Regions from separate parts of the Homo sapiens genome. Here all the other regions are linked to region 1. The links come from fine-mapping of genetic effects on gene expression. A gene starts in region 1. Each other region holds a variant in brackets. All regions are shown on one strand. Distances are between the middles of the regions. Region 1 holds the start of SHMT1 (serine hydroxymethyltransferase 1). Region 2 has its middle 16 kb from the start of LINC02076. Region 3 overlaps LLGL1 (LLGL scribble cell polarity complex component 1). Region 4 overlaps TOP3A (DNA topoisomerase III alpha). Region 5 overlaps PEMT (phosphatidylethanolamine N-methyltransferase). Region 6 overlaps TOP3A (DNA topoisomerase III alpha).

Region 1 (5,000 bases):
GGGATGAGAGCAATCTACGCAGAGTAAACAAGTGCAGAGCACCCCAAGTTCAAAGGCCAGACAAAGGAGAAAGTGTGACTGGCCAAGGGTCAGAAATCAGGCTTGCACACCTGAAGTCTGGGGAGTCACAGGACCACAAGAGTCAAGACCACCCTGGGCAACATAGGGAGACCCCGTCTCTCTAAAGAAAGAAAAAAAAGCGGTCAGGCGCGGTGGCTGACGCCTGTAATCCCAGCACTTTGGGAGGCCGAGGTGGGTGGATCACTTGAGGTCAGGAGTTTGAGACCAGCCTGGCCAATATGGTGAAACCCCATCTCTACTAAAAATACAAAAATTAGCTGGGCGCAGTGGCTCAATTCCTGTAATCCAAGCACTTTGGGAGGCCAAGGCGGGTGCATCACCCCAGGTCAGGAGTTCGAGACCAGCCTGACCAACACGGTAAAACTCCATCTCTACTAAAAATACAAAAATGAGCTGGGTGTGTGGTGCGCACCTGTAACCCCAGCTACTCAGGAGGCTGAGGCAAGATAATCGCTTGAACCCAGGAGGTTGCAGTGAGCTGAGATCGTGCCACCGCACTCCAGCCTGGACAACAGAGCAAGACTCTGTCTCAAAAAAAAAAAAAAAAACAAAAACAAAAATTAGCCAGGCATGGTGGCATATGCCTGTAATCCCAGCTACTCAGCAGGCTGAGACCAGGAGAATAGCTTGAACCAGTGAGGTAGAGATTGCAGTGGACCGAGATCATGCCACTGCACTCCAGCCTGGGTGACAGAGCTAGACTCCGTTTCAAAAAAAAAAACAAAAAAGAAAAAAGGGGGCTGGGTGCAGTGGCTCACATCTGTAATCCCAGCACTTTGGGAGGCCGAGGCGGGCAGATCACGAGGTCAGGAGATCGAGACCATCCTGGCTAACATGGTGAAACCCCGTCTCTACAAAAATAAAAAAAAATTAGCTGGGCGTGGTGGCGGCGCCTGTAGTCCCAGCTACTCAGGAGGCTGAGGCAGGAGAATGGCGTGAACCCGGGAGGCGGAGCTTGCAGTGAGCCGAGATCGCGCCACTGCTCTCCGGCCTGGGCAACAGAGTGAGACTCCGTCTCAAAAAAAAAAAAAAAGAAAATTGGGAATCTTAGGGACATCTTCATTAACATTCAGTAATACCTGGTAAGTCCCCCAGCCAACACAGCTCACTGCAACATCAGTCATTACAACATTGGATATTTCTGTAGAGGCACTGTTGCTCATGTGTGGCATGATCCTCAACGTCAGGGAAAAAGACCTAGTAAGTGAAGTCACCTGCAAGGTCACCAGCCTCCCCATGCCTCCAAATCTTACCTGGGCCTCTGTCACATAAGAGGATCCAGCCAAGGATCTGCTCAGGGAACTAACTTGTTGCACATCTTCTATCTCACACACATTTTGTGTTCTCTTCTTTACAGAAGAGGAAATTGAGGCCCAGGGAGCTAACTTGTCTAAAGCCATATAAGAGCCAGAATCTGAACAATGGTTTCTCTTCAGTTCCAAGGCCTTGTCCCAGGACATTGCACTAAATAAAAACACAATTACCCACTTCCGTTCCAAGTTCCCCCAAGTAATAAATTTACGTTATTTCTTTTCTTTTTTTTCTTTTCTTTCTCTCTCTTTCTTTCTTTTGAGATAGAGTCTCACTCTGTCACTCAGGCTGGAGTGCAGTGGCGTGATCTCCGCTCACTGCAACCTCCACCTCCCGGGTTCAAGCGATTCTCCTGCCTCAGCCTTCCGAGTAGCTGGGATTATAGGTGTGTGCCACCATGGGCAGCCAGGTTTTTTTGTATTTTTAGTACAGACGGGGTTTCACCATGTTGGCCAGGCTGGTCTCCAACTACTAACCTCAAGTGATCCGCCCACCTCGGCCTCCCAAAATGCTGGGATTACAGGCATGAGCCACCGCGCCCGGCCTACAATGTTATTTCTGCAAGAACCTAAACTGGTGTTTCCAGTCTATTCTCTGGGTAACTGCCCGATTGAAGGCCCGCATCTGTGCTGACCTCAGCTGGACCAAGGGTCACTTAACTCCCGGAATCTCGAAGCCAAGGCACCGGGCCAAGAACTTCACAGTGCAACATTTGTCTCCTAGAACAGGGGGTGGCAGATTGCGGGCAACAGGAAGAGCTCATTCCCCACAGGGATCTGGTGGCACGGGCCAAAAGTGGAGCGACCCTGCGCGCAGCCTTTAGGGGCGCAGGCTTTGAGAACCCGGGTTCTATTCCGGGCTCTGCCATTTAAGTTGCCTCCTTTCTCAGGGCCCCACCACCTTCCTCACCTGTAAAATGGGGGAAACAGTAGCACTTGACTTGCAGCTTTGTTGTGAAGGAGCTAGGATTGTTTAAATCGAAAATGCTCAACGAGAAAAGTGTTCAGTGGAGAGCTACTACTCACATCCCCGATAAGCCTTCGCATTCTTGCCAAAGGCCACGGGCCGCCACCCCATCATACCGAATGTGCCTGGAACTGGGGCGCTGCGGCTGGCCGCCGCCCGATCCCCAGCCCAGGCGCGACCCAAGCGCTCCCCTCCCGTCATTGCGGCTGCAGAGGGTGGGGTACGGCGGGGGACAGCGAGGACGCCGAAGCACCCCCCGGGCTCTGGGACGCCGCGGCCCTCGGACCCGAAGCCGCCCACCTACCGGAACACGGCCCGCGCACGTACCTAGCGACGCCTCCGTCCTACGCCGCCGCCGGTGCCACCAGTCCCAGACCCGCTGACCCAACGCCCCGCGCACCGCCGCGGGCCAGCCACGTGACCAGCCGCTCCAACCCCAAACCCCGAACTTGGCGCTGGACCGCTCGAGCTCAGGAAGGTGCACTCTGCGCGCCAGGCTTGGGCTTGGCCCCGCCCCCGGAGGCGCCCAATCAGAGAGCGCAGCCAAGCATGGGCCGCCACCAAACGCACCCGCGCTATTGGCTGCGGCGCAGCGGCGGGCAGGGCCTGTTTCTCCGGGGCGGGCCGGAGGCCGCGTAGTGCAGCTGCGCACCTGGGGCAGGGACCTGCAGAACTGACCCGCTTTGGCTGCAGGGCTGGTGTGTGGACCAAGATTTCCAGGAAGACTACACAGGGCCTTCCTCACTTAAGCCTGTCGCTTGGGCCGTGGGATTATGAGTGAATTTTGTTCATGGTACTACTTTTAGTTTGCAGGGTGGTCATTTAAAGTAGGACAAATGTGCGTCCAAACTGCAACATTATTACTCTGTAGGTGTATAATCCAAGAGCAGACACTTTATTATTATTATTTTTGTTATTTTTTATTTTTATTTTTTTGAGACAGGGTCTCACTCTGTCCCCCAGGTTGAAGTAGAGATGGGGGTCTAACTATGTTGCCTCCCAGGAGGCGGAGGTTGCAGTGAGTCGAGATCGCGCCACTGCACTCCAGCCTGGGGGACGGAGCGAGACAACGTCTCAAGAAGAATAAAATAAGATAAATAAAATACTGACACACAATAAGGACTCAATGAACATTACCTATTGTTAAGAATGATAAAAACCGGGGCCACATGTCAGGACCACCTGAGGCTGCGTCATAAATTTTTTTATTTGTCAAATGATAACAATAATTATTATAAGAATGATAAAAACCGGGCGCAGTGGCTCACCCCTGTAATTCCAGCACTTTGGGAGGCCGAGGCAGATGGCTTGAGCCTAGGAGTTCAAGACCAGCCTGGGCAAAATGGTGAAACCTTGTCTCTACAAATAATTTTAAAATTAGCTGGGTGTGGTGGCAGTCGCCTGTAGTCCCAGCTACTTGGGGGGCTGAATGGGAGGATCACTTGAGCCTGGGAGGCAGAGGTTGCAGTAAGCAATGATCTTGCCTCTGTACTCCAGCCTGGGCAACAGAGTGAGACCCTCATCATCTCGAAAAACAAACAAACAAAAAATACAAAAAAAACTTTTTTTTTTTTTTGAGACAGAGTCTTGCTCTGTCGCCCAGGCTGGAGTGCAGTGGCGCGATCTCGGCTCACTGCAAGCTCCACCTCCCGGGTTCACGTCATTCTCCTGCTTCAGCCTCCTGAGTAGCTGGGACTACAGGCCTCCGCCACCACGCCTGGCTAATTTTTTTTTATTTTTGAGACGGAGTCTCCCTCTCTTGCCCAGGCTGGAGTGCTGTGGCGCGATCTAGGCCCACTGCGAGCTCTGCCTCCTGGGTTCATGCCATTCTCCTGCCTCAGCCTCCCGAGTAGCTGGGACTACAGGAGCCCACCACCACGCCTGGCTAATTTTTTGTATTTTCAGTAGAGACAGGGTTTCACCATGTTAGCCAGGATGGTCTTGATCTCCTGACCTTGTGATCCACCTGCCTCAGCCTGCCAAAGTGCTAGGATTACAGGCGTGAGCCACCACACCCGGCTAATTTTTGTATGTTTAGTAGAGATAGGGTTTCACCATATTGGCTAGGCTGGTCTTGAACTCCTGATCTCAAGTGATCCATCCTCCTCGGCCTCCCAAAGTGCTGGGATAACAGGCAAGAGCCACTGCGCCTGGCCAACATAGTGAGTGTTTTTGTTTTTTGTTTTTGTTTTATTTATTTATTTATTTGAGATGGAGTCTCGCTCTGTCACCCAGGCTGGAGTGCAGTGATGCGATCTTGGCTCCCTGCAACCTCTGCCTCTCTGGTTCAAGCAATTCTCCTGCATCGGCTTCCCGAGTAGCTGGGACTACAGGCGTGCACCACCATGCCCAGCTAATTGTTCTTTTTGTTTGTTTGTTTGAGACGGAGTCTCGCTCTGTCGCCCAGGCATGAGTGCAGTGGCTCGATCTTCGCTCACTGCAATCTCCACCTCCCAGGTTCACGCCGTTCTCCTGCCTCAGCCTCCCGAGTAGCTGGGACTACAGGCGCCCGCCACCATGTCCGGCTAATTTTTTATATTTTTAGTAGAGACAGGGTTTCACTGTGTTAGCCAGGATGGTCTTGATCTCCTGACCTCTGATCCGCCTGCCTCGGCCTCCCAAAGTGCTGGGATTACAGGCAT
Region 2 (5,161 bases), 64 kb after region 1:
ATCAGCCACAGGGTGAAGAGCATGGTGGGTGGTGGTCGGGTTTGCAGTTGGGAAGGGTGATCAGGCCTTCAGCTGAGTGTGTCCTGGAGTCTCCATGCTTAGTCACACGTTGCAGCTTTTTGCTCCCCGAAAATGGTGAAGTCCATCTATAGTCTAACGACAGTCTCTCCTGCTTTAATTGGGTCTATTTGTTGGGTCCTCTGGGACATGGAAAAACCACTTGCTCAGCTTCTCCTTGTAAATTCCTGGTGAGTGCCTCCAGGCCTACTGCTGTGCTGTTTCTTTTTCTTCTTCCTGCTGCACTGAACCCCTGCCCTTTCATTCTTGGGCCTGTGCTAATTTCTGTGCATTCCCAACTGTGATTTTTCACCAATTTAGGGGAACCTCCTCTGCCAGGGCCTGCTTCTCCCCAGCAGTGCTTGCAGGGGCCTGGGCTGGCTGGCATCCCTGGGTCGATGGGTGCTCCTCTCCCTGCAGGCTGGCCACTCAGTACTCCTTGTCCCTGGCCTCGCAGCCCACCTGGGAAGGTAAGAAGCTGCCCTGTCCTGCTGTGTGGACCCCAAGGCGGCGGAGAGGCTGAGGACCCTTCTGTGTGGGAGACTGGGGGGACCACAGACTCGGGCAGGTGGGGGGAAGAGCTCCTGCCTGATGTTCCCTGTGCCTCCCTCCTCCATCGCCTGCAGCCACAGTGACCAGCCACCAGGTGTGCCATCGTGGAGGAAGTCCAGGTTGGAGAGGTGGTCTTCTGTAAGCAGGTCCATCTCTCCACCCACTGAGGCCCCTTTCTGCCTGTGACAGCCCCACCTCGAGGGTCATGGCACAGCCATCAGCTGCAGCTCCCAGCATGCTACTGCCACGCCCCGAGTGTCCGTCTGGGCACTGGTCCATGACCTGTTGTCTTTCTGTATCTACTTTCTGCAGCCCCTCACTGAGGAGGCCTCCTGGGTTTGTCCAGTGCCTGCTATTAAAGCTTTGCTCCAAGTTCAATGCCTCGTGTGATCTGGTCTGTTCATTGGTTTGGGGCAGTGTGGGCTGAGGGACTGGGATAGGTGGAGAGTTTATTGAGTGTTTGGGTATTGGCTTGTCACCTGCCAATCTGTTCTGCCCACTCCATCCAGGCCTGGGGCTCCTAGAAGACCAGAGGGGAGGAGGAGGAAGGATTAAGGGTGGAGGGAAGGGACAGCCCCTTGTATTGGGAAAAGTTTCTAAGAATCAGCCCCTGAGTCCCTGTCACCTGTGGCTGGTCCCTGGGAGGGCCACACATACTTTCCAAGGACCACACCTGTTGGGGAGCACTCCCTGCCTCAGCCCAGGGTGGGTTCAAGAGCAGAAGGAGAGGGGCTCGGTGGGGAGGGGCTTCTGAAGGAGTGGTCCAGGGCACTGATGAGTGAGGGGGTGAGAGCGAGGCAGCTAGCCCAGGAAAGCAGACCGGCTCTGCCCAGCTCGGGGTGTGTGTGGGGCAGGGTGGCCGCTGTGCGTGTACGCATGGGGGGTGTCCTGTTTGCTTTGGTGGCTTGGCAGCCACTGGGCTATTGAGGAATCTCTCTCCGCTGCTGGTGGGGCTACCTGGGCCTGTCTGGGAAGTGGAAGCCATTGGCAGTCTGAAACATGACCACCTTCCACCCAGCGGGCCTGGCAGGACCCTGGGACCCAGGGCGGGGCTTGGGGTGGTGGGCAGGGCAGGGTGGGGCTGTGGAGTGGGGCACTTGGCCCGCCCGAGGAGCCACATCTTGGGGAGCCTGGAGTGGGGAGGGGGCTGGCTGGCTGGGGTCTCTGTAAGAGCCTCTTCTTGGGCAATGTCCTTTAGGTTTCCTGTGGGCTGAGACCTGAGAGAAATGCCCCTCCCCTGACCCTGAGGTCTCTTGGGGTACAGAAGGGTGAGAGGAGTGGAAGGGGGCATCCCCCTCTCAGTTGGTTTAGATCCTCTCTTAGCACGGCCCACCTTTCCCCCATCCTATAGCTGAGCCCCTGTTTGCCCACCCCAGCCTGGAGTGTAAACCTGGGGAAAGGTTTACACGAGGAGACTGGGTTAGCAAGGGCTTCTAGGGATGGGGCAGGGTCAGAAGCTGACTGGATGGAACTGTAGCCCCTAGAGTGCATTCCTGGGTGTCAGACTCTGCAGAAGGGGCCAGTGTGGACACTGCACCCCTCTGGAGCCCCAATTTCTTTATCTGCGATGTGGGTTGGTCTCCGAGGCTTGATGGCATTTCTATGCTGTGAGGTGGGCCTGGTGGGTTTGGGCTCAGTTTCCAAGGCAGGATAGGCTCTCGGTCCCTTCTTTCTCTTCAGCACCCAGCCCCGGGCCAGCACCTTGGGTGGAGCAGTGTGGGGTGAAAGACAGCAACTTCAGGGGGTGGTCACCTGACATTGCAACCCATTTCCCCACCAGACAGGGTTGAGGTGGGCCGGGCTGGGGTGGTGGCTGCCTGGGAGGGCCTGGGGACGGTGAAGTCCTGTATTCTCCTCTTCTCCCATATTAGGTCATGGGAAAGCATAGCTGGAGGGCCCGCCCAAATCACAGGTGACGGGCCTCAGAGCAGTGGCACGCACACGCGTGGCACCCAGCACGAGGATTTGGAGAAATGAGGCAAATTCCTGATGATGGGTGGGGAGGGGGTCCCCAGCCACCTGGGAGCTGGCAGGTGGCCCGTGGTGATGAAAGCCCAGGGGAAGGGAAACAGAGGAGCCTGTTGTAATCGCTACGCCCACTTGGTGGCCTATAAAGGAAGCCTGTGAACCCCGGCAGCCCTACACTACTTGGGGCCCCTCTTCTTTCCAGCCCTTCTCCTGTGTGCCTGCCTCCTGCCGCCGCCACCATGACCACCTCCATCCGCCAGTTCACCTCCTCCAGCTCCATCAAGGGCTCCTCTGGCCTGGGGGGCGGCTCGTCCCGCACCTCCTGCCAGCTGTCTGGCGGCCTGGGTGCCGGCTCCTGCAGGCCGGGATCTGCTGGTGGCCTGGGCAGCGCCCTCGGGGGTAGCAGCTACTCCAGCTGCTACAGCTTTGGCTCTGGCGGTGGCTATGGCAGCAGCAGCTTTGAGGGCGTTGATGGGCTGCTGGTCGGAGGTGAGAAGGCCACCATGCAGAACCTCAATGACCGCCTGGCCTCCTACC[T/C]GGACAAGGTGCGTGCCCTGGAGGAGGCCGACACTGAGCTGGAGGTAAAGATCCGTGACTGGTACCAGAGGCAGGCCCCGGGGCCCGCCCGTGACTACAGCCAGTACTACAGGATAATCGAGGAGCTGCAGAACAAGGTAGGGCCTGCTGGTGGGAGGGGTCTCCGGGGGGCATGACTTTTTCCCCCCAACTCCTGCCCTGGCCAAAGGCCTGGAGTCCAGCCATAGGGTCTCAGGGAGCCAAGGGTGGTTTGGCTGTGGCTTAGCTTCTGGGAACCTGCCTTGGGGCCCCTGTGTGGCCCACATCCCCCTTTTCTGGGGGCAGTAGGCTGAGTCAGGAACAAACAGGCCTCGTGGAGCCCCTTGGAGACTCAGTTTCTCCCTCGTGGAGCTCCTCCACCTGGAGAGGTTGTAGGATGAGGCAGGAGGATGCAGATGGAGGGCTGGGCCCATGGGCCACTGGATGCGTGGTGTCTTGCTCCTTTGGAGCAGGGGTCAGCAGGAAGGGGTTTTGGGAGGTGTGGAGTGGGGGTGTCTGAGTGAGCTCCCGATAGCACCTGCTGCGGGTGGGAGGCAGAAAGGAGGGGGTGGGACCTCAGGGTGGGGAAGGCCTCTGATGTGCCTTATTTGGGGATTTTTCTGGCTTCTCCTTTCCTCCTGCTGTCCCTTAAGACAGGCTCAGCAAACCGCAGGGGGCGGGGCTGCTGGCTGGAGCCCAGGGTTAGGGATTAGGAAGGGTCCTGACTTCTGATTTGGGACCACTCTTTGGTGAGGGCTCCTTTAGCCTCCTTTTGGGGGAGCCTGTCAGGGGCACCCTCTAGCTGACTGTAAAACGAGGGGGTTGCCCACATCCCCTCCCTTGTTCTAGAATTCTGGGACAGTTTCTGCCCTGGGGACATTTTCCCTTTCTTTTCTGGTTGCCTCATACTCCCAGCCAGCTGTCTCTTCTCCTTTAAGGCTGAGCCTGGCATGGGGGTCTGGTGGGGTACTGAGTAGCGGGGGAAGAAGAGGCACCTTTGAGCCCTTCAGACTCCTGCTTGCCCCTCCTCTGCCAATAATACAGCACGGGGCAAGGGAGGGGCTGGGCGGGAAGAGAGGCCCCCAGGCAGGAAGATCTGTTCAGAACTCTGGTGTGGGCTCAGCCACCCCCATCCGATGACCTGACTACTCTCCCATCTCCGCTGATCCTCACAGCCACCGTGGACAATGCCAACATCCTGCTACAGAATGACAATGCCCATCTGGCTGCTGCTGACTTCCGCACCAAGTGAGTCCTAGCTGTGGGCTTGGGCAGCCTGGGTCAGCTGGGGGAGGATCTCAGGGTACCCCTCCTGACCCCAGGACTCCTTGGTTGCTTGTGGCAAGGCCCAGGAGCTCAGGGTGGGGCAATCCTAGGAGCCCCACTACTTAGTCCAGGATGCAGTGAAGGCAGCCAGTTCTGAAGGTTGCTGGGCTTAGGCAGGGAATAGAAGAGAGGGAGGGGAGGCAGGAGGCAGAGAGAAGTAAGGAAGCTGGTGGGCGTAGGATCTGGCCCTGTGATGGTCCCAAGGCCCCGGGGCTGGAATTCGTTTCCACTCGACCCTCTCATCAGCCCTTCCAACCCCTTAGAGTCCTGGCAAAATGAAGGCAGGTGAGCAGCCAGGACCTGGACCTGCAATTCCAAGCAGCCTGGGCTGAAGTCCCTGATTCCCATGGCAGGTTTGAGACAGAGCAGGCCCTGTGCCTGAGTGTGGAGGCCGACATCAATGGCCCGTGCAGGGTGCTGGATGAGCTGACCCTGGCCAGAGCCGACCCGGAGATGCACATTGAGAACCTCAAGGAGGAGCTGGCCTACCTGAAGAAGAACCACGAGGTGAGGTGGCTGGGGCAGAAGGTCAAAGATGCTGAGGAGTGGGTGGCAGAGCCCTGGGGCTGGGCCATGGCTGAGGCCGTGCGAGAGAGCACAGCAGGCGCACTGGGATTAGTCACCTTAGAGGGCTTCCCTGTCTGCGGAGCCCTGATCCTTGGGGTCCAGCGTGCAGGGCAGACTCCTCTTTGTACCACACTGC
Region 3 (5,161 bases), 130 kb before region 1:
GTCATGGTCATCTTGCGGGACTCCTCCGCAAGCTTTAGTCTGTGCCTCTAAAAATGGGGTGCAGAGCCCTTCATGGAGCAGGTGGGGCCTCATCAGTGCCTGCACCTCTGTGAGCCTTGCTTCACCTGTTTGTTGCTGGAGCCTCCATGCAGTGGGGCCCACATGAGCCTGTGTGCATTGAGGGGCACAGGGGCTTGGCAAAGGGCGGGCCTCTGTGGACTATGCACGCGGTACAGTCATGGTGGAGGCTAGGGGTTTAGCCACCTCCCCACCAACTGGAGGCATGATAACCCATTTCACAGTTGAGGACGCTGAGGCACAGAGCAAGTAGACCTGCCTCCTACCCCCAGTGTGTCAGCTGCAGACCCTGGAGGCTGCCTTGGGGTGGGCCTCAGGGTGGGCCATGGCAGAGGTGCCTGGGAGTGCTTACCCCCAGCAGCCCTCCCCTCCTTGCAGACTGTGGAGCATGGCTTCCCCAATCAGCCCAGCGCCCTGGCCTTCGACCCGGAACTTCGCATCATGGCCATCGGCACCAGGTCTGGGGCTGTCAAGATGTATCCTTTGCAGGACAGGTGTTCAGGGTCTGTTCAGGACCACCTGCCTGTAGTTCCCTGTGCTCTGGGGTCCCAGTCTTGGCAGTGTCCAGCTCGAGAGGAGGACAGAGGTGCTCTGATGGGCAGTAGTGGGGGCTTCTGCGGAGGTTGGCGTGGCTTCTGTACCTGAGACAACTGTGCAGAGATGATGGGGTCCTTTTGCTGAGAGACGGGTGGTGGGGGGTCAGTTTGCAGTAGCACAGCTGTCCCTTGCTACGTGTCAGCCAGCCAGTTACCTAGGCGACCCTGCCATCGTCCCAGCAACTCTGGGGAGGCCAGGCAGAAGGCTGGGCTATGATACCCATGGAGGGTGGCAGGTGGGCTGGGGGCCCTGGTGAGCTGATGCACACATGTGTGAATGTGAAGACACATGTGTTCAGCAAAGGGGCCTGGGGGCAGTGCCAGGCTCGGCATGGTGAGCACAGCACGGCCCCCACCTGGATACTGGCTGCTGCACAATGGGCTGTGTGAGCCACACAAAGCGGGCATTTTCCCTGCAGGCCTGGGGTGGGGGTGGGGGCAGGCCGGCAGCTCAGTGTCTCCTTGCCAGCCCTGGAGAATCCCACCCCAACTGCTCTTGGGGAAGCCGAGGTGCCAGGGTCTGGCTGATGGCGGCTTGGTGAGGGGTGCTGACCCCTACCCCTCCTGTGTGGCCTTCTGGGTTTCAGTATCCTGGTTTCAGACATCAGTTCCCAGAAAATGTGTCAGTGCTGGGAAAGGGGAGGGTGTGGGATGGGGGTCTCCTCACCCCAGGACTGGGGGCACTGATCAGGCAGGGATGGGACTCTGAGCCTGTGGTTTGTGAGCTCTTTGCCTACTCTGGGGAGTGTGGATGGGCTGAGATGTCCCCTTCTCTCCCATGGCCCCAGCGGCCTCTGTTGGTGAGTGTGGCAGTGCTCTGGGCCCCACATGCTCCGCTGCCTGGCCTGCTGCTCCCACTCCTGTGGGTGCTGCGCTGCGTGCGCACATGTGTCCCTGCAGCCTTCAGGTGTCCCTCCTGTGTTGGGGTCTCCAGTGCACTTGTCCTCAGGCTCAAAAAGAACCTGAAGTGCAGATGAGGAGACTGAGCCTCAGAAAGGAGGCTGGAGCCCGGGGTCCTCTTCCCTTTTTCCCCTGACTGCCACTGCCTGGAGCCCCTTGGGTTGGGAAACTGAGGCTGGAGAGGGCCAGCCCTGGTCACTAGAAGCTGCCCCTCCCCCTGCCAGGCCAGCCCCATCTCCTTGACGACCCTGGTTCCCGCCCAGCTGCTCCTGTCCCCTCTTTTGTCCCTTCTTCGGAGTTTCTCGCCAGGCTCCTGTAGGGAATCTGAGCTCAAGCTCCAGGCAACGGCTCCTGTGTTGTCACCGGGGCAACGTTGCTGACTCCTCCCTGCACCCTCTGTCATGGGGCCCCCTCAGGCCCTGCTGTCCACCATCAGCCCTGGAGTTGCCGGGACTCAGGCACTGACACTGGGCACTTCAAGCAGGTCATCCACCCCCTCCAAGTCTGTGTGCTCATCTGTGAAATGGGCAGGCTGGAGTCTCTCCTCCCTCATGATGGCAGTTGTTGGCTGCCTGCTTTGGAGGGAGGTGGGTTTTTTTTGTTTTGTTTTGTTTTTTTGAGATGGAGTCTTGCTCTTTGTTGCCCAGGCTGGAGTGCAGTCGCACAGTTTTGGCTCACTGCAACCTTTGCCTCCCGGGTTCAAGCAGTTCTCTGCCTCAGCCTCCCAAATAGCTGGGATTACAGGTGCCTGCCAGCATGCCCGGCTAATTTTTGC[G/A]TTTTTAGTAGAGACGAGGTTTCACCATCTTGGCCAGGCTGGTCCTCAACTCCTGACCTTGTGATCTACCTGCCTCGGCCTCCCAAAGTGCTGGGATTACAGGAGCGAGCCACCGTGCCCAGAGGAGGTGGGTTTTCTTACCCATGGCTGAAGTTTGGCCTGAAGCTGTGGGAAAAGGCAGCCTGGACTCTTCTGCCCCCTGGCTTTCTTGTCCAGGCCTGGCCTTGCACCTCTGGCCTGCCTGATCCCATCCGGCAAGGCGCAGCTCCCAGAACCCATAGACACACGGAGCTGAAGTGGAGCGGAGCCCCATCCTCTCACCAGGCTGAGGCCAAGCCTGCTGGGTGTGTTTATTCTCACTTGATCTGCAACAGTCCTGTAAAGTGGGAGTCACTGGCCCAATTTACGGGAAGTGAAGGTCCTATAGCAGCACCTGACTTGCAGGAGTGAGTGGAGCCTGCACACTGATCTTGGGGATACTGTAGGGGTGCAGAGTGGGAGCTTTAGGGAGGGGGCCTCCGTTCTTCAGGGAGGACTCCTGGATGGTCAGGCCCATGCCGGGGCCCACTGGAATAGTCCGGGTCAAGGAGGAGCCTTGGGTGTCTTCCTCACTGTGGTTTGCTGGTCTATGCCTATTTCCACCTTGACCTGCCACCCTCAGCTATGGTGCACCTGGCGTGGAGTTCACAGGCCTGCACCGGGATGCAGCCACTGTCACACAGATGCACTTCTTGACCGGCCAGGTGAGCCTCTGCTTCCCACTAGCCAGCTCCCTGTGGCCCCCATATCTACTCATCCCCCTAGGCCAGCCTAGTTTTCATCTCTGCTCACACACCAGGGCCGCCTCCTGTCCCTGCTTGATGACAGCAGTCTGCATCTCTGGGAGATTGTCCACCATAATGGCTGTGCCCACCTGGAAGAAGCACTCAGTTTCCAGCTGCCCAGCCGGCCCGGCTTTGATGGTGCCAGGTACTGGAGAACTTGGCTGGGGCCAGCCACCGGGCAGGGAGGATCTGGGGGAGGCTGTGGGAACCTGCTGTGCAAAGGCAGCATGGAGATGGGCAGCGGTTCAGGGCGGGATGCCTTGAGCTGGGCCTGGGTCCCAGGCTGCAGCTGTTGGACCCTGCTTTACTGAGGTATACTCTGAACTTTTCAGGTTAAATGGGAGGTTTGGGTTGAGTCCGACGTGAGCAGGTAATTAACATTGTGAGCAGCAGGAGGTACATGCATTATATGCCAAACTTCTAGGACCTGAGGCCTGGCACTACACTTACTGCAATGATGGGGGTGTCTAGGGGTTTGGGGCAGGGCCTAAGCCAGTTAGTAACAGGAAGGGTCCCCTGGCCTCTTCAGTTGTGGGTGGGAGACAGGCCTTTCTGTGCATAGGCAGGGTTGAGGGCAAGGAGGGTCCCATGGGCTGTGCTTGGTAAGGCGCTGGCAGCATGCCCCAGCTGAGTGAGAGTGTGGGGCATCTCTCTCCCCAGCCCTGCCTGAAATAGCTGGAAAAGGGGAGTACCAACCCAGGGATGGATTCCTGATGCCTCCCAGCTTCTGCAGATGGGGGTATCTGGGGCCCTCCTGCGAAGTCAGGAGATGTCTGAGCGCTGGCAGCGGGATTCCTAGGAGGGGCTCAGCGGGGAGCTCCTGGTCCTGGCTTGGGCAGTGCCCTGGTTCCTGCTGTCCTCTCCTGGTGGGTGGGAGGAGCTGGGAGCCCAGTCTGCAAGACCTAGGGACCCTATTTTTATCCATCTCCCTGCTGACATCCTGATGAATAATTGAGCGGGCTGATGATGATGCATGTCTTCCTGGGGTGGCTCTGTAAGTAGGCCCTGGTGAGTGCTGTGGGGCCAGTGATGAGTTATCAGCAGTGGCCCAGCCCCTCACACCCCACCTGAGCAGGTGGATGGGCTTGTACCCTCACTCCCTTCCCCTTGTTCCCTGCAGTGCTCCGCTCAGCCTTACCCGAGTCACAGTGGTCCTGCTGGTGGCTGCCAGCGACATAGCAGCCCTGGGCACTGAGGGCAGCAGTGTCTTCTTCCTGGATGTTACCACCCTGACCCTGCTCGAGGGGCAGACGCTTGCCCCAGGCGAGGTTCTGCGCAGGTAAGAGGCCGGTGGGCTTCCCAGCACCCACTGTGTGCCCGGGAAGTTCTGCTGGCTCACCTGCCTTCCTCCACAGCGTGCCAGACGACTACCGCTGTGGGAAGGCACTGGGCCCCGTGGAGTCACTCCAGGGACACCTGCGGGACCCCACAAAGATTCTCATTGGCTACAGCCGGGGCCTGCTGGTCATCTGGAACCAGGCCTCGCAGTGTGTGGACCACATCTTCCTGGGGAACCAGGTATGTAGGTGAGGCCTGTGTCCCCTCAGCCTGGGCCCCTTGTGCATGCCCACCATGGCTCATGCCTGCCTGCCTGCCTGCCCCTGCCTGCCCGCAGCAGCTGGAGAGCCTATGCTGGGGGCGTGATAGCAGCACTGTGGTCAGCTCACACAGCGATGGCAGCTATGCTGTCTGGTCTGTGGATGCCGGCAGCTTCCCAACGCTGCAGCCCACGGTAGCCACCACACCTTACGGTGAGTGCTGGGGACACCTTAGCCAGAGGGTGGTGATGGGAGGGGGCACCACTGAGCCAAGCCAAACTGGCTGAGGAGGGACTTCCCCGAGGGGGTGGTCTGGGGGCAGTGTGTCTCCCGCCGACTTCCCGGGGAGGCAGGAGGCAGCTGTAAGGTAGAGAGCAGTGGAGGGCAGAGCAGGAATGGCAGAATTGCTAAGAACCACCAGTGAGTCTGGTCTGACGCTGTCCCACCCCT
Region 4 (5,161 bases), 62 kb before region 1:
AAAAAAAATAAAAATAAAATTAAAATTAAAAAAAAAAAAGAGCAAAACTCCATCTCAAAAAATAAAAAATAAAAAATAACAGGCCAAGCAGTGGTTGGGTGTGGTGGCTTATGCCTGTAATCCCAGTACTTTGGGAGGCTGGGGCTGGAGAATCACTTGAGGCCAGAAGCTTGAGACTAGCCTAGTCAACATAGTGAGATTCCATCTCTACCAAAAAATTTTAAAAATAATTAGCTGGTCATAGTGGTACATGACTATAGTCCCAGCTACTTGGGAGGCTGAGGTGGGAAGATCTCTTGAGCCCAGAAGTTTGAGTCTACAAAAACAAAATAAACAAAAAAACAAACAGTGAGGCTAAGCAGGACCGTGTCTTTCTCCAGTGTTTTCTTGTGTGGCCTGGTGATGGGTGATATTTTCTTCCACCAAGCCACAGTCTAGGCGGTAGAACCACAGCCTCAAAACAGTAAGTGTTCCCCGAGTGCCTGAAACAGCCTGTCTGGAACATACCACAGTGTCCAAGGCTTGAGGCCGCCACTTGCTCTTGGGCTTAGATCTGACCTCTACCACAGTTGCCATGGGATCCTAGAAAGCCAGGAAAGAAAAGACCATGTTAACCTGTTAGTGCATCATCTCCATCCTTCCTATGGATAGCCCATGCCAATCCTTCTAGATCACACTGACCACCGCCAGCTAAGCCCGCAGTGACAGCCTAGAAGAGTGCCCCACTTAATGTCGCTTGTAGCTGACAGTATGGTAGACACCATCACTACTTTCCCACTCAAACCAAGATTGTGAAGGGCAATTTCACAAGCCTTAAGGTGCTTCCACCAGAGCCTATGAAATCCAACAGCCTATGCATCACCTGAGTACAGTTTTCTATGTACACGTGCACAGTGCTCTTTCTGTTGTTGTTTTCTTTAAAATACAGAGATGGGGTCTTGCTATGTTGCCCAGGCTGGCCCAGAAGTCCTGGGCTCAAGCAATACTCCCATAAGCCACCATGCTTGGCCCAGTGCTCCTTTAAAAAAAAAATTCAGGATAATACAGTTAGAAATAGGAGAAATTGCTGGGCACAGTGGCTCACGCCTGTAATCCCACCACTTTGGGAGGCCGAGGCGGGCGGATTACAAGGTCGAGAGCTAGACCATCCTGGCCAACATGGTGAAAATCCATCTCTACTAAAAATACAAAAATTAGCTGGGCGTGGTGGTGCACGCCTGTAGTTCCAGCTACTGGGGAGGCTGAGGCAGGAGAATCGCTTGAACCCGGGAGGTAGAGGTTGCAGTGAGCTGAGATCGTGCCATTGCACTCCAGCCTGGCAAATGAGCTAGACTTTGTCTCGGGGGAGAAAAAAAAAAGAAATAGGAGAAATTGTACAAGTTGGAGACCTTTAATCTTAAAACCAGCTTCATAGTTTACATCACCCACCACGTAGTCCCGCACCACATCCGAGTGAAGGAGAAACAGGGCAGGTCTTTTTATTACTTACTTTTATATTTTATTATTATTTGATTTTTTTTTTGAGGCAGTATCTCGTTCTGTCACTCAGGCTGAAGTGCAGTGGCATAATCATGGCTCACTGCAGCCTCAATCTGCTGGGCTCAAGCGATTCTCCCACCTCAGCCTCCCAAGTAGATGGAACTATATGCAGGTACCACCACGCCCAGCTAATTTTTCTTTTTTAGAAAGATGGGGTTTCACTATGAAACCCAGGCTGGTGGTCTTTTTATTTAACAAATAATTGTACAGTGTCACAGAGACTCCCAGTGGTCCAGGGTCAAAGGGTGGAGTGAGAGAGAGATGGAGAAGGCAGCATGGTCTGCAGAAGGGGCAGGGACACACTAGGACTCTGCCATGTACAGCTCTCACGTGTCTGTGGGTTAAGTCTCTTCACTTTCTTTAGCTTCCTCATCTGGAAAATGTGGATGCTATCACTGCCTTCAGAGGCATTATTAGGATTAAACAAAACAACACATAACGAAGTGTACCTGGTCCATAGCGGGTGCTGCACAGTTATCACATCCCTTTGCCTAATTAGTAACAAATCTGCCAGTGGGCTACAGCCAAGAAGCACACCATGAATTAAGCCTAGAGAGCTCGGAATTTTACTTAAGCATGACTCTGTGCAGCCCCTGGGTTAAACCAGGCTGTTATGTGCTAATAGGAAGTGGCATCAGAAAGTAAACAATCAGCCCAAGGGCCAGGAAACATTAGGGTGGGTCCCAACTCTGCCACCAACTGGCCTATGACCCGGGCCAGTCTTGCTCCCTTCTATGACACATG[C/T]GTGTCCCACCCACCCCGCCAGCCCTTTCCCTAATCTCTCCAGCCTCTGCTCAAGTGTTACCCCTCCCCTCACTGTCCCTCCGGCCTTTCTCTATCCCTTTACCTTGCTTTATTTTCTTCCTAGCTTTTATCACTATATAAAATTAGCCCACTAATTTGTGACTTTCACTTCTCTAGATGTCCTCATGTGACCAATAAAGAGGGGGCTGAGCCAAATGCTGTTCATTCTCTCCTAGCTCTATAAGTCAATGACCTGGACTGGTCTAGATAATCCTTGCTAATTTCTGGTGATAGTATATGCCCCAAGAGGGGATTTCAACTATACGTTTCCCAAAATTTCTGATTTTATCTAAAAATAATGTAGATACTTCCCTTTTCCTTTTAGTGCTGTTCTCATGGGGTTCGTCTTATTGGTTCCCAAAAAGTGATCCCCTGAGATGCAAACTTAAAGCTAAAGTCCAATGGGAGAATGAGACAGATCACCTCTGCCGACAGTGGGAGTGGTTTGGGAGGTGTGCAGAATGTTTCCTAGATCATTAGGGGTTCTTACCTCCACACACAACTGATAGAGAACTAGGCAAGCCGTGTGGTTAAAGAGTCGATGCCTTTTCCAGTTGAATTCTACGATACCATCTTTGTGGTCATGAGTTACTATATTAAGGAGAGACAAACAGAAAGGCTGTGTCTCAGAGACATGTCATGATATGACAGATAGAAAAAGGTTTATTGTGGTGAAAGTCAAACGAATATCAAATAGGGAGGAGTTTCTGGATAACAAAGGGAACTTTAAGTGGATTGTAATGGGCCAGGGAGGATGACAGCAAGACTAAAATAAATCACATCTTTATTAGTGCTATTAATGCTCACAGTCCCCCTCCTTAACCTTGAGCCCATAGGTCCCAGGCCATAACACCCACTCCAGGCCCTACCTTTAATTCTGTGGAAGATTTCTGGTACAAAAGCCTGAATGGCTTTGAACCGCTCCACCACAAAGCCCAGTGTGGGGAACTGGCAGCTGCCGTAACTGATGAGCTGCTCTGCCAGCACCTCAGGAAAAATCCTCTGAAGCCGCAGGGTCTGGAACCTAGTAAAGGCAGCTCCTGGAGAGTGAAGGAGAGTGAAGGAAGGTGAAAATGATGGATAATGAGAGTCCAGGGCTGGCTGCACATATCGACACAGAGCCCATTTTTGGTCCCATAACACAACATTAATGTGGCCATGGGAGAGGTCTGCCTAGCTCCTCACCAATCCTCAGGTCCAGCTCCTGCCTCACATCCACAGCATCGCTCACCCTCTGATCAGGCTCGGTCAGGTTTTCACAAGCTGTCCTGACGGCATGGGGTGTGATCTCAGAGAATCGGGCTCGCAACACCTGCAGATTGGGCTTTACTGCAGAACACAAGGTGTTACCAAGGTCAAAGTCAAATCACACTGCCCTCCATCATAAAGGACTCACTTTTCTTAAAGCCCCTTGAAATAAAGGCAAACCAGTTCAAGAAGCTGTGAGATGACCAATTTACCTATTAGGTTAAATCAATGGTGTACAGTGTCTAAAGAGGAAACATCACCATAACCTTTAAACTGAGTGTACTGTCAGAAATAGTGATGGAGTTAATTTTAGCTAGTAACTGTGGGGAAAAGAGAGATCAGATCGTTACTGTGTCTAGTAGAAAAAGGAAGACATAAAGAAACTCCATTTTGATCTGTACTAAGAAAAATTGTTCTGCTTTGAGATGCTGTTAATAATCTGTGACTTGTCCCAACCCTGTGCTCACAAAAACATGTGCTGTATTGACTCAAGGTTTAAAGGATTTAGGCCTGTGCAGGATGTGCTTTGTTAAAAATGTGTTTGCAGGCAGTACGCTTTGTGAAAGTCATCGCCATTCTCCACTCTCTATTAACCAGAGACACAATGCACTGTGGAAGGCCGCAGGGACCCCTGCCCAAGAAAGCCTGGGTATTGTCAAGGTTTCCCCCGACTGAGACAGCCTGAGATATGGCCTCGTGGGAAGGGAAAGACTTACAGCCCCCCAGCCCGACACTCGTAAAGGGTCAGTGCTGAGGAGGATTAGTGAAAGAGTAAGGCCTCTATGCGGTTGAGATAAGAAGGCATCTGTCTCCTGCACGTCTCTGGGAATGGAATGACTCGGTGTACAACCGACCATATATTCTATTCTGAGATAGGAGAAAACCACCTTATGGCTGGAGGCGAGACATCACGGCGGCAATACTGCTCTGTTACTCTTTACTGCACTGAGATGTTTATGTAAAGGTAAACATAAATCTAGCCTACGTGCACATCCAGGCACAGCACCTTCCCTTAAACTTATTTATGACACAGTCTTTTGTTTGTTTTCCTGCTGACCCTCTCCCCACCAACACCCTATAGTCACACTGCATTCCCCTCCCTGAGATAGTAAAGATAGTGATTGATAAATACTGAGGAACTGAGACCAGCACTGGTGTAGGTCTTCACTTGCTGAGCGCCGGTCCCCTGGGCCCACTTTTCTTCCCCTTTACTTTGTGTGTGTCTTCTTTCTTTTCTCAGTCTCTCGTCTCCACCTTGTGAGAAATACCCACAGGTGTGGAGGGGCAGGCCCCCTCCAATAACTAAAATACTAAAATGCTCTTGGTGAACATTTTTTTTTTGGAGACAGTCTCACTCTGTCACCCAGGCTGGAGTGCAGTGGTGCAATCTCGGCTCACTGCAACCTCTGCTTCCTGGGTTCAAGCAATTCTCCTGCCTTGGTCTCCTGAGTAGCTGGGACTACAGGCGCCCGCCACCACACCTGGCTAATTTTTGTATTTTTAGTAGAGACAGGGTTTCACCATGTTGACCAGGCTGGTCTTGAACACCTGACCTCAGGAGATCCACCTG
Region 5 (5,161 bases), 850 kb before region 1:
GAACCCTAAGCCTGCAGGGACGACCTGGGTGGGGGGGATTGTTTTGAGTTTGGGCTCATCCTGTGGCCCCAGTGGGGGTGCTCCATGGCCGGTGAGCCTGGGGGCACATAGTCTGGGCCTTAGCAGGCAGAGGGACCAGGCTAGAAGGCAGGTAGGACGTGTCCCTGGGGACTGCCTGGCCTGGACGTGGGGTGGGGGTAGGGTGGGTCCCAGCCAGACCCACAGCCCCCCTTCTAGCTTCTGCTGTCTCCAACCCCCGCTGCTACGGTCCCAACTGCTGAAGGTGGGAGCCAGGAGGCAACATCTTGCGCTTGACATTCACTGTTTACGATTCACTCCTTTGGGATCCTCAGGTCTTGTGGAGAACCTGTAAATTCTAGGCCAGTGGTTTTCAAGTGTTAAACAAAAGCAGTGGAACACTGTCTGCCAAAAAACCTTCTATGGAAGAAAATGGCTAAACTAGAACTGCTGGGGTGGGGGCTGGGTATGAAGCCGAGGGCAGCGCCCGCTGTGCCATCCTTGACCGCAGGTCCTCTGACCCGCCGGGGGAGCACATCTCCATACCTTGTCAGTACCCGTACCTGGCTGAGGCCGACAGCAGTTCTAGGCTTCCCTCATGGCACGGGGCCCCCTCTGTGGGAAGGGGTATCTGCCACATGGGCAGAGGCTATTGGGGCACAGGGAGTTCTGTCAGCTGCGGGTGAGCTGGGCCCTGGCGGCTCTGGCCAACCCCTCCTGCGGGGAAGATGGGTCGGGTGGTCCCAGCCCTGATGTCCCCGCACAAGGGTCCGCAAACTACGGCCTAGGGGCCAAGAACGCCTGTTACATTTTTAAACGGTTAAAAGCAAAAGGATCAAAAAGAATGTTTCATGACACGTGAAAAGAATCTGAAATTTAGGCTTCAGTGTCTGTAAGTGGAGCTGTGCTGGCGCCAAAGACGCGCATCCATTTTCCTGCGTCTGCAGCTGTTTTGTGTGGCAGGACCAGGGCTGAGCAGCTGTGACCTGCCTGCAGCCTTTGAGCCTCCACACTCCAGCCCTCTTTGGAGAAGCTGACCACCCTGTTCTGGGATGTTGTTTCTGTTACCATAGATAAGACGCTTCTGAGAAAGGGAGAACCAGGGCGCCTAGGCCCCCACAAATGACACGTTCTTCCTTTCTCTCTCTCCAGGGGCCCTGGCCCCCGCGTCCTGAGCTGCACCAGCTCCTCTCCGGGAGGTGGCCAGCAGGGCAGAGGGGTGGCAAGCCTGGTACTCACATGATGGCCCAGCCCAGGTAGTTGGCTGTGCTTCCCCAGTACATGGGGTTGTCCAGGATGTTGAAGGGGAACACGGTCACTCTCGCCTCCTTGAGGATCCCGAAGTAATCACCTGTGGATGAGGCAAGGCAGGGTCCCTCGGCTATTCATCAGCCCTGGCCACACCATCACTGAGGGAGGCCCCAGAGCGGGCTGTGGCGAGACCTGCAGGTGAGACAGGGCCCTGCCCTCCAGGAGACTTCAGAGAGTTCAACAATGGGCAGAGTCAGAGGGACCCAACAGGCACGCAGACAGCAGAGGGCGTGGGGCCTAAGGACTAAGGTGCTGAGCACCGCCCCTGCCCCACTGCTCCTCTTCTCGAGCACTCTGACCCAGCCATGCTGGCCTTCCTCTTCTTCCTGGCTCTGCACACGCTGTTCCCTCCCCTGCGATGCCTTTCCCTGCTCTCTGTACAGAGAGCGCCTTTCCTCCTCAGGCCCTTCGCCCTCTGCTCATGGCGCCTCTTTATGCAGACCCTTCCTCTTCCTGTCCTACCTCCCACTCTTCCTCGCTCTGGTGAGTTCCTCTCCCTCTAGGGGCCTCAGCTGGTTGCTAAGGGCTGCTCTGCTCCACACCCCAGGCTGTGTGGCTCTGGCACCAGGGCCTGGCCACAGCACGCCTCCCGTTGCTCTGGGAGGTCAGCTCTGGTATTGTTTTCTCACTCAGCTGCCCAGAGGAGCTAGACCCAGTGGAGAGAGGGTGACTATTGAACAGCCTGTTCCAGACAGGCCAGCCATGCACCCGTCAGCCGCACAGCCACAAGGCGTCCCCCGGCAGAGCTGCTCTGAGCCATAAGGGAGTGGCCGGGGTCACAGTCACAGTGTCTGTCCCAGGCCCACAGAGGACAGTCCCACTGGACACAGAGTAACCGCTCCATAAAGGGTGTGGCTTCGTTCCTCCCAGCCTTCTGTCCCCAGAAACCCCTCATTTGTCTCTCCTCCCAGAGGACAATGGAGCTTCATCCAAGGCGGAAAGTAGGGCAGCTGCCCGACAATGGGCAGCATGGGCAGGAGGGGTCCAGGAGCTTCATCACCATCTGGGGACACGGGGCAGGGCCCAGGACCACTGGAAAGTTCTTTCTTCCCAGGAAGCAGGAAGTGGGGCACAGGGTGTGCGTAGATGGCACAGAAACCCAATTCGAGCTGAGTCACAGCAGGAAGTGACCACCTTTGCCTACATACCGCGCTGCTGGTCCTCGGTGTTTCTAGGCCATGTCTGCTGGCAGGGCCGCCAGGAGGCTGTGGCCACTGGTGTTTGCAGGCTCCTTCCCTCCCTCTGACTGTCCAGGACCCCCAGCTTGTTCTTCCACTGCTGAGGGGCTCCACCCACCATCCTGGCTCTCCTTACGCTGCCTCTGCAGCCCTCCCTGTCCAGATCCACCCGAGCACTGGCCACTGGAGGGCCCCCGCCGCTGGTCTCCCACAGGACCTGATTGCACAGCCCGGAGTCCCCCTTCCCATGGGGCCCTCACCGCCCTCACATCCTGGAAGGGCCCC[T/G]CCACAGCTCCTCCTGAGCCCCACCTCTGATCCTGGCTCCATCGGTCCAACCTCTTCCTTGCTGGGACCCCCCCTATGGCTCCCACCTCTCTGGGGATGGAGCCTCAGCCCCTTGGATGGCCTTCAAGGCCTCGGCTCATCCTCCTGCCCTGTCCCAACCGACAGCACCTGTGCGGCCAGTCCAGCTGCCCCCCACCTCCAGCTGCCAGCTACTCTGCCCTCAACCTCCCTCTCCTTGCACCAAGGCTTTTTTCTCTTTCCTACCTGCCCGCACCTGCCCCCACCTGGCAGATCCAGACGCTCCTGGCTGCTGTCCCCCTTCCTGGACCAAACTCCCTACAGCGTCTGCCTGAGCAGGAAGCACTGAACTGCCTGTGGGTGCCCCCCACAGTCCCAGAGAGGCCTGGCCATGGGCGATCCAGAATGCTGCACCCACAGATGCCACTTCCTCCCTCGGGGGGACCCCTACTGGCAGGCACAAGCTCCTTGAGAACTTGGAGTGCCCTGTGACAGCCCACGGTGCCCTGGGGGCTGGGCCCAAGGAGCTGTAGCCGGCATCTGAGGATGGGGATGGCAGGCAGGCCCGGGAGCTCCTCAGGACACCGTTGGTCCCAGGAGGCTACTGAGGCCACTGAAGCCGAGTGACTTCCAAGCTCCTGCACTGGCCAGGGCTGATGGGGAGGAAGACGTGGGCCTTCCCACCCATGACGGAGAGCGGGCAATGCGGCCAGCTGGACCAACTCCCTGCTCACTGGGAGGGGCTCCCCTTGGACAGGGACTGCCTCCTTCTCTCCTTCCAGGTTCCGAAGGCCCCCTCTTGTCCCCCACCCCTGCCCCCATCTCCCCTCCCACCCCGACCCCTACTGCCTTTCCCATGGCTGCTTTTCTTTCCCAGATTCCAAGGAGCTGGAAGTTGCTGCCATCATCAGGGTCATTGGTGGGCGTCTAGCCAGGCCAGCACTGGGCTCACAGCCTGAAAGCACCTCAGCCACAGGCAGAGGGAAATGGAGAAGGGATAAGGTGCCTCCACCCCTCACCCCTCCCCAGACCTACACCAGCCCTGCCTGCGGCCAAACACGGCACAAACCACAATCCTGCCTGGCCTGAGAGCCACGCGTGCCGGGAGCTGCCAGAGAGGTGGCTGACTCACCACCACCTCAGGCTTCTGTGCAACAAGGCCTGAGAGTCTTCTGCAAGGGGGAGCTGGTGCTGGAGCTGGACTCAAGGAGTCCTGCACCCAGCCCGGGCCGCAGAACGGGCATTGAGTGCATCTTCATTAGCTGGAGAGAAGCAGCAGGAGCTGCCTTCACTCCCCAGGAGGCAGCCGCTCAGCACGCTGGGGTAAGAGGAGCTGTTGGAGCCCAGCCTCCTGTTCTAACCACAGACAAGCCAGGCCTGGAGGAGCAAAGACGCCCCGATGGAGGGGGCCCCTAGCACTCCCACCGATGTCACGGATAGCAGGGCAGCAGCCACCTGGCCCTGCACCTCCCTGGGGCTCCAGCGGTCCTGCTCAGGGTCACCCCAGCCCTCAGGGTCTTACCTAGGAAAGTTCCAGCGAACCCCAGTGCAAAGAAGCTGGAGAGCACGAGCACGACGCCCAGTCCCAGGAGCGCGAGGCCCAGGCTGTAGGCCGCGGGGGTGTCCAGGCTCTCCATCCTGGGCTGGCTCAGCATGGCCTGCGTGAAGCTGTGGGCAGGGGATGGAGAGGGAGGACGTCATGGCCAGGGAGGATGTCACAGCCCGGGAGGAGGCCGACCTCATCTTCTCGCCCTCTCCCCAGGGACCCTTAGAGAGTAGCCAGCCCAGGGCTGCCAGGCCAGGCAGGCAGCAGGTGGGGTCCAGTCCACCTGGGAGGTGGGTGACAGTAACAGGGAGGGGCCCAGGCCTGTCAGATTTTTAAATTTTTTCAAGAGAAGCCAGAAATCCTGACTCGTATGTGAAATATCCTAATTTTTAGAAATAGACAATTCATGAAAGCCACTTTAGACCCTGCATGTGAGCAGGCTGGATTCAGCCCGAAGGCCACCAGCTTGCAAACTCTCATCCTGTCCAATGAGCAACTCATACTATGGAGGAAAGTGAGGCTCAGGAAAGACGCAGGTGCCAGGTTGCAGGGCAGGCCCAGGTGTCCCATTCCCCAACAGACTCAGTGCCCCGAGGCCTGGGGCATGCTCTGTGCTAGGGATTGCGCTTCCACAGCCCCTGTGGGTCTGGCCACATCCTGGGTGGCTTGACTTGCATTTAAAGGCACTTTGGGGGCCCTTAATGTCCTCCTCCACACCTGAATTCCCCCACTAGGCTCCCTTTGGGGCCAAACCACTGAAGGCCTTGTAAAAAGGTAGTGGGGTCCAGGTGTGGTGGCTCACGCC
Region 6 (5,161 bases), 80 kb before region 1:
GCTGGCCTCCAGCACCGAGTCAGGAAGCCACACAGCTGAGCGACACTCTGGGAAACCCATGCAGCTGAGGTAGAACCTGGGGACAAAGTGCCATGTCAGATGATAGGAGTGCAGGAGATGCTCTCCGCTGTTGGCCATCAGCTAAGGCAGCCTTTCCTCAGCTGCCCGAGGACAACATTCCCTTTTCTGGATGACACTTAACTGGATACACAAGCACTCATATTGAATTGATTGGGAAAAATGAGCCTTCTCACATCCCAAAAGCACAAAGCAGCTATTGCTGGCCCTGCTTTCTATTTAGAAAACCAACAACCAACCAAGCTGACGCCAGGGGCTCTGTGCTGTGCACTCACACATTCTTGCCTTTCTGCCTCGTGCCAAGTCTGGGCAGTGTCAGGGGCCCCCTCAGTTTGCATGTGAGTAAACAGTGGCTTGGTGTGGCCTGGAAACCTGCCCAGAGACATGCATGCATGTGTGGATGGGAGCCAGGAATGGAAACCCATCTGTTTGTGACAAAGCCTCACCTGCAACATCTACACCCCACCCACTGCCCATCCATCCCATCCCGGTCTCTCCTGGCCAATGTTTTTCAACACCTTGCAGTCATGAAACGTTAGGGTTTGACTAGCTAATATGCATGTGATTTACAAATTCCTCATGAGTGTGCCTGGGTACACTATGAAGGAAAAAAAAGCCCCGAACTCCAATCATTTAAATAAGAAATTTACAATCTCAGAAATGGAAATTAACAGATAAATCATGGAGTGGCAAATCCCACAAGATAATCTCCTGACCTTCTGGAGTAACTCAGAGAAGCATTACAAAAGAATAACAGAAGAACAAACGAATAACTAAAGAATAATAATAATTCTCCAATTCAGAGAATTGGAGAATTCAGAGCTAAAACAAAAGTAGTTATTCTCTCTCCTTATATTCCAATGAGTACTAATCCAATAACCTACCGATAGCAAGGAAAACCCATCGACAGCATTTATTAAGTGCTGAAATATACGCCCAGTCATTGGGCTAAGCCTAGAGTGGCACTGGCTTCTGTCTGTGAGTGACGCGAGCCCTGACACCTGCTTCCAGGTCTGGCCCATAGACCTCTTGTTTCTGAGAGCCTGGGTGGCCTTCTCTTCACTTGGGCCAGCCAGGTTAATGATGGCTGGAGGTGAGGAGTTGAGAAACCTCCTTTCTTATTCAGCAGCAAGGAGCACAGCAGTCCCAGGTGGGCCAGGCAGGATGGAAAAAGGCAGTGAAAACCCGGTTTCAAACTCTGCTGCCCACCACGGCTGCTTGACTCCAAGCAAGCACCTCAGCCCTCTAAGCTGCATAAAAATCCCTGCCTTGCAGGGTAGTTAGGAGAATGGGATGAGGTAATGCTTACAGAGCACCACCCTGCATTACACCAGTGAGGGACGGCACCTGATGAATGATGGCTGCCACCCCTCCACCTCGTCTTTCCCCGTGAACTTCCTCCAGTGGCCAGCCACTGGCTCCAACAACCTGATGTGAAGCTAAATTGCCCACTCAGATCTACTATATTTAAAGCGAAAAGGGAGTTGAGATTTTCAGGCCCCATTCAGAACTAAAACTAGGAGAGAACAAAAGTAGTATCTGCTGAGTATCTACAACACATCAGGCAATGTGCTATATAGTCCTGACCATTTTCACCAAATCCTCACCCTTAACACAGCCTTGTAAGTACTGACATTTTATAAAAGAAGAAATTGGGGTTCAGAGCAGGTAAGTAACTTGCTTCAGGCCACACCACTTATATGCGGCATAAGTGGCATTTGAACCCAGACCCACCTAGATCTGAAGCTCATGCTCCTCCATGTGTTACACATTGGGTATATGATGTCCTATCCACAGGGGACAAAAAAACCCCACTATCATTCAGTTTCTCACCTGCTCTGAATTCCCATAGTGCTTTACACCTCAAAGGCCTGATCCCACCCTGCTATGCTTTTAGGCCAACACCTTGCCTGCAGGTTGGCAACAACAGGCCTGTCTTGAAAGATTCCATGGAGTGAAATGGCAGGGTCTTTCGAGCTACGGCTGACACCGCAGGTGCTGGGGAGCAGAGGTGGGGGCAGAAGGCAGCGCACTCACCCGCCATTCTTCTTGGTCTTAAGGACCATGTCCTTGTTGCACTGTGGGCACTTCCTGATGGGCTCTGGCATGGCTGGGTAGATATCTTCTTGCTGGGCCAACTCTGTCCCATTCCCAAAGTACTGGGCCAAGGCCTCGTCCAATCTGAAGAAAAGGCAAAGACAGACACCCATCAGCCAGCAATCGCTGCAAAGGCACCTACAACACTCTTACATGCACACAACAGGCGTGACCTTGAGAACCAGCTGGTCAGT[G/A]AGCCGCAGGCCTCCTGCAGAGAACAGACGGCAGACAGAAGACTGAGCTCACCATGGGCCCTGGTGCCGAACCAACTCTTGGGAGGAGAGTCCAGATACAGGCAGATGCTTCTGCTTGTCACCAGCCCACATTAAAAAGTAAAACTGGGCCAAATGTGGTGGCTCACGCCTGTAATCCCAGGCCGAGGCGGGCGGATCACCTGAGGTTGTAATTTCGAGACCAGCCTGACCAACATGGTGAAACCCCGTCTCTACTAAAAATACAAAATTAGCCAGGCATGGTGGCGCATGCCTGTAATCCAAGCTACTCAGGAGGCTGAGGCAGGAGAATCGCTTGAACCCAGGAGGCAGAGGTTGTGGTGAGCCAAGATCACGCCATTGCACCCTAGCCTGGGCAACAAGAGCGAAACTCCATCTCAAAAAAAAAAAGTAAAACTGCACAGGGTCCATGTACAAACTCCAGGAGTGTCTGTCTGTATTAAGTCTAAACTAGCTCATGCCTGCCTTTTCACAACTGGCATGGGGTACTCTAAAGAACAGAAAATAACAAACTGTTATCTTCTATTACAGTCTCACAACACACATCAGACACCAGATGTATGGGAGTTTTCCCCATACACCAAGCAACTCTCCCGCCACACACCAGTTGGACATCCTCTAATTCAATTCAATTCTGACACTATGCACCTGGAGATCCATCTAACGGTTAAGGGCTCAGTCCCAGAAGACTGCTGCCCCAAATTCCCTCAGATGTCAGTCACAAATCCCAGGCTGTGACCTGTGCTTCTGACTGACTGGCTATAAACTGGGGTTCCTCAGACCCCCTCCTTGGTTTGATTCTCAATAGAGTGGCTCACAGAGCTCAGGGAAACACTTTACTTATGCTTACCCGTTAATTACAAAGGATCCAGGTGAATACCCAGATGGAAGCAATGCACAGGGCAAGGGATGTGGGGAAGGGGTAGCTTCCATGCCCTCTCCCAAACACCCACCCTCCAGGAGTCTTTACCTGTTTAGCTATTTGGATGTGCCCCAAACCCAATTGTTTGATTTGTTTTTGTTGTTGTTGAAGAAGTCTCACTCTGTTGCCCAAGCTGGACTGCAGTGGGGCAATCTCGGCTCATTGCAACCTCCACCTTCCGGGTTCAAGCAGTTCTCCTGCCTCAGCCTCCCAGGTAGCTGGGACTACAGGTACGCACCACCATGCCTGGCTAATTTTTGTATTTTTTTTTTTTTTTTTTAGCAGAGAAAGGGGTTTCACTGTGTTGGCCAGGCTGGTCTTGAACTCCTGACCTTGTGATCTACCCGCCTCGGCCTCCCAAAGTGCTGGGATTACAGGCGTGAGCCACCGTGCCTGACCCTTGTTTGGGGATTTTATGGAGGATTTATTACTTAGGCATGATTGACAAATCACTGGCCACGTGTGATCAACTCAACCTCCAGCCCCTCTGCTCTTCCTGAGGTAGGGGTGGGACTCAAAGTCCCAACCTTCTAATCACAGGGTTGGTTCCCTGACAACCAGACCGATCCCAAGGCTACCCAGGAGCCCTTGGCCACTAGTCATCTCATTTGTATACAACAGACACAGCACTTAAAAAATTCCAAGGGTATCAGAAAATGAAGTCCAAATATATATATCTTATTATAAATCATAATATCACAGGTAGAAAACACATCATTTCTAACAAAATACACACATGCTGCTTGCTAAATATCCACCTCTAAATGCTCCAGAAAACAAATGGATCACACTCCAGCACTTGGGTTTACTGATTTAAAAGACTTTGTTGCCTAACTCAAGATAATTAATGTGTCATGTAATTAAAGCAGAAAAAAAAAAGATAATTAAAATCAAGAGAATGGTATTTCTAAAGCCAATAGTTCAGAATAACTGAAGGAGACTGTTCCGATTACTGTTTCTATACTGACAAAGCTCTATGGAGAGTTGTAAAAGAACCCAGAGAAGAAAGTCCAAAGAAAAGGGGTATGTGGAAAACCTCCAGGCCAGGAGGCCACTGGTGAGGATGAATCTGGCAGGGTTATAAACTCTGACTGGCCCAGATGCGGTGGCTCACGCCTGTAATCCCCACACTTTGGGAGGCTGAGGTGGGAAGATCTCTTGAGGCCAGGAGTTCAAGACCAGCCTGGGCAACATAGTGAGACCCCTCTGTATTTCTTTTAAGGACTTACTTCTTTGCTTTAGCCACCGCTTCAATGAAAACCTGCTTGTATTTCTGCACTTGCTGCCTTAGAACCACAAATTTGTCCTTTTTGCCATCACAGATCAGCTTCAGATCAGCTTCCAGTTCAGCCCGGAGGTCAGGCTTAGACATTTCATAGCCCATGGAATCATAACCTGCAGGGAGAGAGTCGAGCTCAGTGAGGGCCCACCTGAGACCCTCAGGGACTTGGGCGACACCACCCACTACCCACTGCAAGCTCTGTCCTCCCTTACCTTCCACAAGTCCCATGCCCAGGTGCCCAGGGAGGAACCGCTTGTCTGGGGTGAGGCCCACGTACATCCGGGCTTTGATGGTCTCGATGTGCTCCGCATGAGTGGCATCCGTACCTGGAAGCCACTTGCTGGTTACTCTGAGGTAATACAGACAACAGCTCCACCCGGGTGGCGCATGGGCACCTTGCTCACCCCGGAATCCCTCCTTTGCCTGGACAGCCTATGCAGGTAAGATGCCTTCATTTCATTCCCATATAGCTCATTCAAGAAATCACAATGGCAACCTCAACTCTCTTGTTCCCTCACATCCCATTACTCAGGAAAGCTGTCAATTCCA

Evidence for each region. PIP is the estimated chance that this variant, and not a neighbour inherited with it, causes the effect.
Region 2: its variant is fine-mapped to the expression of SHMT1 in whole blood (INTERVAL, PIP above 0.99).
Region 3: its variant is fine-mapped to the expression of SHMT1 in lung (TOPMed, PIP above 0.99).
Region 4: its variant is fine-mapped to the expression of SHMT1 in subcutaneous fat (GTEx, PIP 0.95).
Region 5: its variant is fine-mapped to the expression of SHMT1 in cerebellum (GTEx, PIP 0.92).
Region 6: its variant is fine-mapped to the expression of SHMT1 in whole blood (INTERVAL, PIP above 0.99).

The regions. Positions count from the first base shown.
Region 1 is chr17:18,360,687-18,365,686 of GRCh38, forward strand. It overlaps SHMT1 (serine hydroxymethyltransferase 1), which reads right to left and starts at 2,864. Exons shown (of 12, transcript NM_004169.5): 1 at 2,686-2,864. RefSeq lists a silencer at 2,489-2,958.
Region 2 is chr17:18,424,111-18,429,271 of GRCh38, forward strand. It overlaps the pseudogene KRT17P5 and the pseudogene KRT17P2. Among named protein-coding and RNA genes, the nearest start is that of LINC02076, 16 kb to the left of the region's middle. The variant T/C (reference allele first, on the strand shown) is at 3,115.
Region 3 is chr17:18,229,485-18,234,645 of GRCh38, forward strand. LLGL1 (LLGL scribble cell polarity complex component 1) reads left to right here. Exons shown (of 23, transcript NM_004140.4): 2 at 457-554; 3 at 3,011-3,092; 4 at 3,188-3,318; 5 at 4,294-4,452; 6 at 4,529-4,691; 7 at 4,789-4,924. Among named protein-coding and RNA genes, the nearest start is that of LLGL1, 6.4 kb to the left of the region's middle. RefSeq lists enhancers at 1,035-1,870, 1,871-2,704. The variant G/A (reference allele first, on the strand shown) is at 2,350.
Region 4 is chr17:18,299,052-18,304,212 of GRCh38, forward strand. TOP3A (DNA topoisomerase III alpha) reads right to left here. Exons shown (of 19, transcript NM_004618.5): 6 at 3,529-3,672; 7 at 3,213-3,383; 8 at 2,834-2,934; 9 at 508-582. Among named protein-coding and RNA genes, the nearest start is that of TOP3A, 13 kb to the right of the region's middle. The variant C/T (reference allele first, on the strand shown) is at 2,284.
Region 5 is chr17:17,508,177-17,513,337 of GRCh38, forward strand. PEMT (phosphatidylethanolamine N-methyltransferase) reads right to left here. Exons shown (of 7, transcript NM_148172.3): 4 at 4,333-4,478; 5 at 1,258-1,369. Among named protein-coding and RNA genes, the nearest start is that of RASD1, 14 kb to the left of the region's middle. RefSeq lists an enhancer at 4,553-5,161. The variant T/G (reference allele first, on the strand shown) is at 2,793.
Region 6 is chr17:18,280,583-18,285,743 of GRCh38, forward strand. It overlaps TOP3A (DNA topoisomerase III alpha), which reads right to left. Exons shown (of 19, transcript NM_004618.5): 14 at 4,825-4,938; 15 at 4,560-4,725; 16 at 2,116-2,259; 17 at 1-76. Among named protein-coding and RNA genes, the nearest start is that of MIEF2, 23 kb to the left of the region's middle. The variant G/A (reference allele first, on the strand shown) is at 2,370.